Regions from separate parts of the Homo sapiens genome. Here region 2 is linked to region 1. The links come from fine-mapping of genetic effects on gene expression. A gene starts in region 1. The other region holds a variant in brackets. All regions are shown on one strand. Distances are from middle to middle. Region 1 holds the start of TBL1X (transducin beta like 1 X-linked). Region 2 overlaps TBL1X (transducin beta like 1 X-linked).

Evidence for each region. PIP is the estimated chance that this variant, and not a neighbour inherited with it, causes the effect.
Region 2: its variant is fine-mapped to the expression of TBL1X in whole blood (TOPMed, PIP above 0.99). The same link has a PIP of 0.9 or more in blood mononuclear cells and monocytes.

What each region holds. Positions count from the first base shown.
Region 1 is chrX:9,462,976-9,468,346 of GRCh38, forward strand. It overlaps TBL1X (transducin beta like 1 X-linked), which reads left to right and starts at 2,083. Exons shown (of 18, transcript NM_005647.4): 1 at 2,083-2,472. RefSeq lists enhancers at 14-308, 683-1,511, 1,339-1,538 and silencers at 1,769-2,348, 2,469-2,608, 2,909-3,058.
Region 2 is chrX:9,713,752-9,719,122 of GRCh38, forward strand. TBL1X (transducin beta like 1 X-linked) reads left to right here. Exons shown (of 18, transcript NM_005647.4): 17 at 1,151-1,252; 18 at 2,469-5,371. The coding sequence ends at 2,495. Among named protein-coding and RNA genes, the nearest start is that of GPR143, 49 kb to the right of the region's middle. The variant A/G (reference allele first, on the strand shown) is at 2,947.

The DNA of each region.
Region 1 (5,371 bases):
AATTTCCAACTGCTAACCACAAGCAGGTCTGGCAAGCTAGGAGGCTGGTTGGCTGCGCAGCTACTCCAGAGTGTGCGGTAGCCGAGGGCTGCGTCCGCGTAAAGCCCAGAGCTGTAATGATGTCAACTTGTTATTTACTTTCCAAATCTGAATGACTGAGCAAGGCGAAAGGAGAATCAATCAACCACAATGTGACCCTACAGGCGGAAAAAACGCAGCACTCCCACCAGCAGGCGGTGGGGGAAGGGAAGCACGTGTAGCCAGGGCAGGGTTGCATCATGAGCTCGTTCGGGTTTTCTATTGCACCCTTCGTTTTTCTATTGCATGTAATACCTCAGCATCAGTCTGCACAAGCCCAGGGAGCCCAGGAGCAACGAAGGGCAGGCTCAAGGGAAGGCCCCACCATGTCCTTCTGGGGGGCCTTGAATGGCAACTGATACATAATAAGACACAATCTATTCTGCTGATTCACAATTATGGAGACTGTGTAAGTGTGTATTTTTTTATTGATGTCCTCTAATGATGGTGTAGCAACAGTCGTTTTGCATCATTGACGTTTTACAGCAATATTTTGCAGGGTAATTTTGAGGTCCGCCGTTTTGGTGGAGGACCGGCCTCTTAAAAACTCACCTCCGGCCGGGCACGGTGGCTCACGCCTGTAATCCCAGCACTTTGGGAGGCCGAGGCCGGCGGATTGCCTGAGGTCAGGAGTTCAGACCAGTCTGGCCAATATGGTGAAACCCCGTCTCTACTAAAAATACAAAAAAAATTAGCTGGGCGTGGTGGCATGCGCCTGTAATCCCAGCTACTCGGGAGGCTGAGGCAGGGGAATTGCTTGAACCAGGGTGGTGGAGGTTGCAATGAGCCGACAGCGCGCCACTGCACTCCAGCTTGGGCGACAGAGCGAGACTCCTCAGAAAAACAAAAACAAAAACAAAAAAACAAAAACCTCACCTTAGGTCCCCCTCCCCCTACAACCAGAACAACAAATGGTCTAGAGTTCGAGGAAGAGCAAGTGAGGTTATAGTTTAGATTGCTGAGTGTACCGGGCTCTTAGCACGAAGCTCATTATATAGTAAAGGAAGGGGCAAGAATATTTGAAAAATATTCAACGAGGCTGACCCCAGAGGTGCTGGGGAGGGGGAGTGGAGATCTGTTTAACTGAATTAAGGCTGCGAGTGGTTGGGAGTAGCCTACGTGGAGGGGAGGAAGGAGCGCTGGGGACTTAGGTACACCGGGGCCAGGCCGTGTAAGCCATTGCAACATAAAGCACTTTGCAAGGGCCAGAGGGCTGATGCCTGGGGGGTTGGGGTGGGAGTGATGAGGCCCGAGTGCCCAGGTCCCCCCAACCTCCTCAGCCCCCACACCCGAGTTCCTGGCGCCTATGCCTGTGTGTCTGAGTTTGTCCCTAAGCATTTCTGGCTCTTCTTGGGAGGTGTTTTGCAAAGGTCGAGGCTCCGCCGGAACCCCCACTTTTTGAGCTGGGGTAAAGACTACTGGGGTGTCTTCTAAGACGCCGATTTTGAGGGAGATTCACCATCGGGCAGGTGGCAGGGGGTTCTGTTGGGGCAGCCGGGTGGCTTCCTTTTTGGGGTGGGGGAGGGTAACACTTTAGCAGTGATCGAGGTTCCCCTGCCCCCTAGAAACTGAGGGGGTGGCCGAGGTTCCCGTCCCCTCGAGGCAGTCGTGGAAAGGCTGGGTTTGGGATGTGATGGGGGTAGCCCTGGGGTCCTCTCAGTCCCACGGAGGCCACGGGGAAGGGACCGGGACCAGAGCAACTAGGGAGAGGCCCGGGTTCCCCTCACCCACCCTAGGCGTGGGGGAGCGGGGCGGGCTTGGTAGGGACGCTGGTCCCCCGACCGTGGGACAGGGGCTGGGTTGGGACGCGGGTCCCCACTAGGAGCCGCGGGGGAGGGGCAGGGCCGGAGTCCCTACCCTCGTAGGGGAGGGGCTGGTTCGGGACGCGGCTCCCCCGGGGCGCAGGGGCGGGGCCGGGTGGTACGCCGGGTCCCCTCCCACGGCCGTGAGGGAGGGGCCGGCGGCGGGGGCGGACCCCTGGCGGTCCTCCTGGCTGGGGTCCGCGCGCTCGCGGCAGCTCCCCGTGGAGGTCACTGTCCGTGCCAGTCCCTCCCGCTGTCCCGCCCTCTCCCGCTGCCGCCGCCGCCGCCGCCGCGCCCGCCTCAGCGCCCCCACTCCGCGCTTGGGAGCGAGGAGCCGCCAGCGCCCCCGCCCCGCCGCCGCCGCAGCGCCCTCAGGCCGCCATTCGCCACCGAAACTTTCCAGCGCCCGCGCTCTCTCCGGGACTCGGCGGCGGCGGGGCGGGGGCGGCCCGGGGGCGGCGCGCGGCTGCTCCGGGGCGCCGGGCCCTCTTCGGCCGCCGCACGGCCGGGACTCGGAGGCTGCCGGCTGGAGGGAGGTTCGGAGCGCGGCCGGGCGCGCGGCGCCGCCACAAGTTGCGCTGCTCGCGACGAGGTGAGTGCGCAGGGCTCGGCGGGCCGGGCGCGGGGTCCGCAAACTTCTGCGGGGAGGCGGGTCCCGCGCTGACCCTCCAGGGTCCGGCCGGCGGCTCGGGGCGCCCGAACGCTCCACCCGCCCCTGGAACTCCTGTAGGTGCAGGTCGCCAACTGTCCCCGCGGCGCTCGGACTGGGGTGCGGCGCGCTCCCAGGAGCCTGAACAATACCCCGAGGTGGCCGCTCCCCGAAGTGCCGGCGCGCCTTGCGGGGAGAGACGGAGGTCGGCGGGGGGCTCCTTTGTTTTGGGGAGGGGGAAGTGGCCGGTAAGTTTAGGGAAGCGCTCGGCTTTTCCTCCGGTGCCCCTTTGTCTGCCGATTCAGGGGCTTGCTGGGCAAACCTGCGCCACCGCGGGCTCCGGGGACCGGGGTGGAGGGCGGTGGCGGGATTTCCCCGCTGTTGGGGAGAAGAGCCCCATTCATACCCGGGACGCGGGCCGGCCCTCCCGGACCCGGGTGGAAGCGCAGCCTCGCGGAGTGGGGCAAGCGGCGGGCGAGGTGGCGCGGGCCCCGTGTCTGCTCAGTTTCTGACGCGCAGAAACTGTCAAGGAAGTCGGGAGCCCCAGTCCTCCGCCCATCTCCCCGGCCTGAGCGCACGGCTGGGCTGGGGGCACCCTTGGCCCGTCGAGGGTCTGCAGAGCGCCGCCCGGGGAGAGCGCAGACCTGTTGCTGCTCCTGGGCTCTGACGGGGCGGGTGGGGTGGGTCTCGCAGATCCTGGGCCCCGGCCTTGCTATCCAGGGGGACCTTCCCTAACGATGGGACCGGTGCTCGGAGTGGAGTATGGGGAGTGCGCCTTCGGGAGTCGGCGCTGGCCGGATATGTGACAACTGTGGGTCGCTGGAGGCCCGCCTGCGCTGGGATAGGGCCTGGACTTCACGTGCGTCGCCTGTGTTCCGTCAGACCGGGGCCGGGGCTCGCTCCCTGCAAGGCCTCGTGTTCCCCCAGCCAGCTGCGTTGGACGTTCCACAAAGGTAGGGACTGACGTTTATTCTCGAGTCAGTGATGTTCTGGAGCAAAACCTAAAAAGAAACAAAAACCTACCCTCTATTGTATTTGCAACTGTTTCTGCTTTGCATTGTCATGTGTGGTTTGACCTGCCTTTTGGATGTTTTCCTCTCCTGAAACATCGCCCAGTCCCTGGTTTAACCTGGAAGGCGAGGGGGAAGGAAGGCAACCTCCCTGCTAAGGTTCCAGGCAGTGGCTTTGGTGTTGGAAGTGGCACTTGACGATTTTATGAAAAGTTTACAAGTCCTTCCTAGAAAAGATGTAATTAGGAAAAATAAAATACAGAAGAACGTTGAGTATGACGCGTTTATTTTAAAGGGTAGTCCTGTCTCAAATGTGCTGCACATTTTTGTGGAAAGCCACCAAGCTGGGTAACTAATGCAAACAACAAAAGTTGTTCATCACTGGATCACCGGCCCTTAAGGCGATTCCAGCCCTTAGTAGAACACACACCTGTAGGGCAAATATGGAGATTTGTGGTGTAGTGCTGCCACCCTCGCTCCCCAACTCTCAGGCATTTTGCCCCTTTACCTCAGAGAACTTCTCTCTGTCAGTGGTTTTAAAGAGGAAACAGTTTGCAAAAATAACTTTATTGTAGACATACTTAGAAGTGAATGTTTCAATTTCTGGAGTTTTCCCATCAATTATATCAGTACCACTGGTTCTGTACAACATCATCTTAGTTAGAAGATTTTTTTTCACCTTTTAAGGTGACGAACAGAGGCGGGAAAATGGTCCCTGCAGAGGGAGGCCATCTCCAGCAGGTCCCGAGGGTCAGGAATTCAGATTATCCGATCTACTCCTGCTGGATAGGAGCACACCTCCGCTAGAACCTGGGTCCGGCCCCCTCCCAGTTTTCTGCAGGGCGTCCAGATTCCGGTGCTCTGCCCCGCAGCAGTGCCCTGTGGGCCTCCTGGCTTAGCTGATCAGCACAGCTTCTCTGCCCAGCGAGGCAGGACCATCCTCCCACTGCTTTCCTGATGCCTTGGATTTGCTTTTTTTCCTCCCTTAGGAAAAGCAAAAAAACCTAATATGCTACATCCGAGAAGTTGTTAATCTTTCACTACCACATGCATTGAAAAATCAGTTCCACCCAGGAAGCAACACTAAAGGCATATTGTAAACACTTTTTTTTTTTTAGTTGGAAAGATAAACTTTTTTCCCCCATAACTATTTTTAGTTAGCCGGAGACTGGACTCGAGTTTTTACCTCCGGTCTTGCCCCCTCCACTCCCGCCCTCACTTTCTGTGGGGCTCGACCACATGGACCATGCTGGCCAGACTGGCAAACATGAAACCCACCAGAACCAAAAGAAAAGCTGGATATGGGAAGGGGCCGAAGAAGTCCACATGTTTCTAAAGGGCAAAGAGCCTAGGCTGAGGAGAGACGTTTCAGATCTCCAGGGGAGAAAGACAGCCGTTAAGGAGTCCGCCGGGCTGCTGCCTGCCTGGCCAGCGGGAGCCTGACTTCAGATGCCTGCGCCTCCCAAGCTGGCCCCCTCCCACACAGCCATCGCCATCCAGTATTTAGGGAGAATCCACCGCATGCCTGAAGGTTGCAGAAGTGAATTGGAAACCGTTACAAATGGAATTGGAACAAATTTAAAGTTAAGATGGAAGAGAGAATATGTTGAGTTTTCAGAGGAAGTCGGGTACTGCTTCCTTTTCTTGTCTAGGTTTGTTCTTGTCCGATGGGATCAGAGAGATTTGAGATGGGGCATGATAGGCGGCGGGTTCAGGAGAAAGGGAAGCTTTAGAAATGAAGGTAGAAAAGATGCTTGCTTATTGGAACAGTATTTTCAACGTTGAGCTCTGGAATGTTGCAGCCAACTAATGGTTCTCATTTGGGACAGTTT
Region 2 (5,371 bases), 250 kb after region 1:
AGAGAAATCTTAAAGCCCACTTTAATCTTTCTCCAAGTATAAAAATACTTATCTGTAATACTGCCGACACACACCTTTCTCAGTTCATGGAACACCACCCTTTAAGGGGCCCAATTGAGCAGAGGATTTGGGACAGCCCTCCTGGTCTCGGTGTTCAGATTTCTCCTGCCTGTCACCATAGTGAATCATGAGTGAAGGCTTATTCGACTCTTTCTCTCTTTTTTATTTTTTAAAATTAATTTTTGTAGAGACGAAGTCTCACTGTGTTGCCCAGGCTAGTCTTGAACTCTTGGGCTCAATCCGTCCTCCCGCCTCGGCCTCCCAAAGTGCTGGGATTACAGGGTGAGCCACCTCGCCTGGCCTTATTCAACTCTTTCAAAGGCCTCAACTTCCCCTACCTCTTAGATTTGTCAAGTTAATGCTGTTTTAAACCGGAAACCAATGGTCTGTGGTGTTTTCCATTACATGTATATTATGCATTTCTTCTTTCAAATGTCCAAAAATACGTACATTTTAATGTCATGGCATATTATTACATTTAATCATGAATTACAGTCAATTTAATTGCTACTGGGGTGGGTGTATTCATTATGTTGTATTCATTCAGGTCCTCCAAAGAACAGACACCAGAACAGGATTAGATGGGCGAGAGATTTATTGGGGGAAAGAGCTGTGATGGAAACAGGGAGGAAGGTAGGGGGAAGGGAGAATTCAGACCATAAGGCCAGTCTGACCCTGGGAAGGAGACGGGAAGGGTAGGAAGAGTCAGGGATGGCCCTTACAGGTCTGTAGAAAGTTTTGGTCGTGCTGATGGAGAGTCCATGAGCCACTTACCCACCAGATGAGTCTGAGTCTCAGCAGGTGACTGCCATGGTCTCCCGCCTCCATCAGTCCTCAGCTGGGTGCAGCCTCAGAATCCACGCAAATGTGGCAGATTCCGCAGGCATAAGTAATCAGGTTCACTCCTCGTGGTGGGAAGTCCTAGAGGCACATCTCCATGGCCCCCAGAGTCCTTACTGAAAACCCTTAAATTTCACCATGCTTGAAAATGTTCATGACGAAACGTCAGGGCCGGAGGAGCGCACATTCCACACCTGCATCTGTCGCAGGCGCCCCTTGCGTTGTAAGTGACAGCTGCTTTGCTTTGCAGAGTGGAAATCTTGTCCACAGCTACCGAGGCACTGGCGGCATCTTCGAGGTGTGCTGGAACGCCCGAGGAGACAAAGTGGGTGCCAGCGCGTCCGACGGCTCTGTAAGCAACACCTCTGGTTTGCTGGGGAGTGGGGTGTTGGGGGCAGCTGATGCCTAAGTGAGCTTCCAGGGCGTGTGCAGCATTCGTGTCCTGAAGGGCCTAGCCCAGTGCCAAAGGAAGCTTCTGGGCTGGATCCCATCGGAGTTGGTACCACATCTGGGAATGGCCTTCTCCTTGTCCCTTCCAGAGTGTCCTTCTAGTCAACATTTTCTCAGTCAAATTGGTGGTTCTCAACCAGGGTGATTCTGCACCTCTAAGGACATTAGACAATATCTGGAGCCATTTTAGGTTGTCACTACAGTCATGTGTCGCTTAATGACGGGAACGTTTTGGGAAATGTGTCATTAGGCACTTTTATCTTTGTCTGAACATCATAGAGTGACTGACACAAACCTAGATGATAATACCTGTCCCACACCGAGGCTGTGTGGTACAGCCTATTGCTCCCAGGCTACAAACCTGGACAGCGGGTGACCATACTGATTCCTGTAGGCAACCAGAACACAATGGTAAGCATTTGTGCGTCCGGATCTATCTAAACATAGAAAAGGTTCAGCAGATATATGGTTATAATCTTACAGGACCACTGCGGTCTGTGCGGTGCGTTGTTGCTGGAAACGTCATTATGTGACGCGTGACTGTGCTTAGATGAGGATGCTGCTAAACCTCCTACTGTGCACAGGGTGGCCACAATTGTCACCCATGCTGTGGCTGAGAAGCCCGGGCCTCTGGTGGCCATCCTGCAGGTCTCCTGGGCCCTCTTCTCTTCCCATGGGGCATCTGGATTTCTTATTTTCCCCTGGACTTGAGGTTGCCCTGACCTCTGGGGCAAGCGGCCGTTCTGGCTGAACGGCCAAGGGTCAGAGTAGTCCCCAAATGTTGTCAGAGGCTGTGTACTTGGGCTCGTATTGTCATCTGCCCCACGATTGCAGGTGTCCCTTCTGGGACCTCTGCCACTCTGTTAATTCCTATCATTACCCTTAACCTGGCCTTTCTGCTCTGTGCTGTTTGCTTCAGTTTGCTCGGTCCGATGTCCAGATGCCAGTCTGTTATGAGAGCTTCTCTGACCCTTCATGACGATGTTCCAATAAACTTTACTGACAAACATCGGTGGAGGGCTAGATTGGGCGTGGGGGCCGTAGCTTGCCGACTTCTCACTCTAAAGGCATCTTTGTATTGTCTCTCAAGATGACAGGTGCTTTATCTTTCCTTCCAGGTGTGTGTTTTGGATCTGCGGAAGTAACCACAAAATATTATCGAAAAAAGAAAAGAATTCTAATGACCAGCCGTGAATGTGTAGGGTTGCAGCTCTATTCTCCAAAACTGTAGGAACTTGACTTGCGTTAGAGTGTACTCTGAAACCAACTCGTCTCTGGCCGCAGGAGTCTATATGTTTTCGTAATCTTCATCAAGAAGTTTTTAAAAGGCAAGCAAAAACAGAAGCAAATCATATCAAACGGGGATAGAATGGTTTCCACTGAGGACATTCAGCCTGGGAAGGAGGAAGTCACCAGCTCGAGGCGTGTGGATTGGTTTCCACCCGGAACAGGCTCTGTGATGGCTGAATGGAAAGAAACGTAAAAAGCTGTGCCAAAAAAAAAGCAAAATGCTGTGATAAACCAAACAGGGAAGGGGGAAAAACCCTCCTCCTTGGGATTTTTTTTTTTTGTTTTCCCTAACAATTTGGACACTAC[A/G]ATTGCTCTCACAAAGGAGGTTCAAAGACCAGTTTGTACCGATGAAACGCGCAACTTTGTAATCCCAACACTTTCTATTTTCTAGAATCTTCTTTGTTCATTGGGTGGTTTTTCAGTCGGCTGGAATTCTATCTTCTGGGGGCCTTCCGTCTGAGATGGAAGCTGTCTTGGGCTTGTTGTCTCTTCCTTCTGTTGCTCCCTGCCCCTCCCCCTGCCTTTCCACTCTGTCTGGTGAGCTCTGCTTTTTCAGTGCACCATCAAGAGATGCAGCCCCGTGGACATGAAGACACAATCTCCCACGGACAGCTTTCCCCCTTCCGCCCTCTCCCACCCTCTCCTCCCCTTGCGCTCGCGCTCGCGCTCGCTTTCTCACTGGCGTGCTCTCTTTCTCTCTCTCTCTCCCTCTGTACCTTTCTCATAGTTGCTTCAGATCTTAGGTCTCAAGGGCACTTTGGCGCGTAGTAAGTGCTTTATGTAAGAAGGCAGGGCAGGGGGGCTTTTTACAGGAGAAAAAAAAATGACTTATAAGAGAAAGAGCCTGGAGTATTTTTGGAAAAAAAAATAATATTTTTATGTTAAAACAATTTTAAAATCTTAAAATGGCCATCAGACATAGAGAGCTTTGTGTGATTCATGTTTTAAAAAGAACCGAAGAAGCCACAGGCAGGGCCTGAGGGAGCCCCTGGCTTTCCCCTCAGCCTCAGGAAAGGTGGTCAGGAAAACTCTGGCTGGACAAGGGTCAGTCTTCGGGGTCAGCAGCGAGATTGCTCTGCAGCCAGTGAGGGAGGTCCCCGCCATGCCGGCTGGAAGAAGAACCTCGCATCTTTTGGTGTGTATGCACCTTGGCAGCCAGCAGGAAAGCAGCGAAGAGCCGCGCGCCCTCTGGCCTCAAGGGAGCATTGGCAGAACCATAAGGTACTGCAGAAGCCGTCGAAACCGACTGCTCGGCTGGATTAGGCGTGTTGGCTACATCTTTCCCACAACCGTATAACGACCGATGGTCATTTCTCCAAGAGCAGGCTTGGCGAGTCCTTGCAGAGCTGACATAGAGGCGCCCGCATGTCACTTAGTCTAACGCTGACAGAAATGAATGCAGAAGGAAGATTTTCAGTCCTGAACGTGAATTATAGAGGTAGAACGTCGCTAATAATTTCTGCCATCTTTATAATTTCTTTGTCTCACAGAAGACTAGGAGAAAGATCTTTTTTAAATAATCTTTTTGCTGTTTTTAAAAAATTAAACAAGGCTTTGTGTTCCTAGAAGAGCTTCATTTCAGTGAATCTGGTGACCTCCATCTGCTTGCTGTCATAACCCGACACGGACTTATTTTTGTCATTAGCAAGGGGGAAAAGGCCAAAGGACAAGGGCCTCTTCTCCCATTGGTTTTCCTGTGGGCAGAAGGGCTGAGGAAGATGGCCCAGCCCGTGGGGGCTGCTGGGTCACCAGCAGTGGGTAGGGTGCAATCTGGTGTGTGTTCCAGCAGTGAGACGGTGTTATTGTGAAGGTGGCATTCATCTGCGGAGCCAAAACCCAGCCATCGGGGAAGGGTCAGGGCTTCTGTGGAACTTGGAACGTGCCAGGACCACCTGCAAAAGCCAGGGTGCGTTGATCATTCTCAGATCATTGATTGGCCTCCACTTGGGTATGTGAATTATTCATGTCCCAGAAGACCAAAAAGTGCTCTGGTTCTGAGATGAGTATTTTATTCGTGTTCTGTTTCCGAAACACTTAGCAAAGAAGGTCACAGTGATGTGGAGTCGCCGCACCCATCTTTGAAGATAGCCAGTGTCCCTGGATGAGGTGATGATTTCCCGTCCCAAGGACTCTGTGAAGTTTAGAGTACAGTTTGTTGGGGTCCAAAAGACACCATCTCTACCCCACCCAAATAAAAATGCACTCATCTCTGTAGAACATCTGCTGTCAAAGGCCAGCCTGTCGTTAGGGCATGGCTTATGCTTGACAAACCAGTAACAACTGTGGGATGGCGATGGTGGGATGTGTCGCAAGCAATTCACTAGACAATCTTCACATGAATGTCGGTAGCCAGGGTCTCTCCCGAGGGATGGCTTTAGTCTTGATGAATGTGAACCATGTCGGAATTGTTAGGTAGAAACCTGGGCTGGGAGGCCTCGGACCCCAGGCTCCATCCCTGGCTTCCCCAGCCTGCGGCCGCAAGCAAAACCAAGCGCGAGATGCAGCTAGCACCCTTCATATCCATCCCCGTTCTCAGCGGGACAACACCATGGACAGCCGTTTTCAGAGCCTCCAGCATTTGCACACCACTACTCACCCTCTCTGCTGCTGGCATGTTGGTAGAGTCATCCCTGTAATCAAGAAATGGCCTGTGGAATGTTATTGTTCAACGTTGTTTACAGCTCTTAAAACATGGTGAGGAATGCCTAAGTCTTAGTGACCAAACGTGACC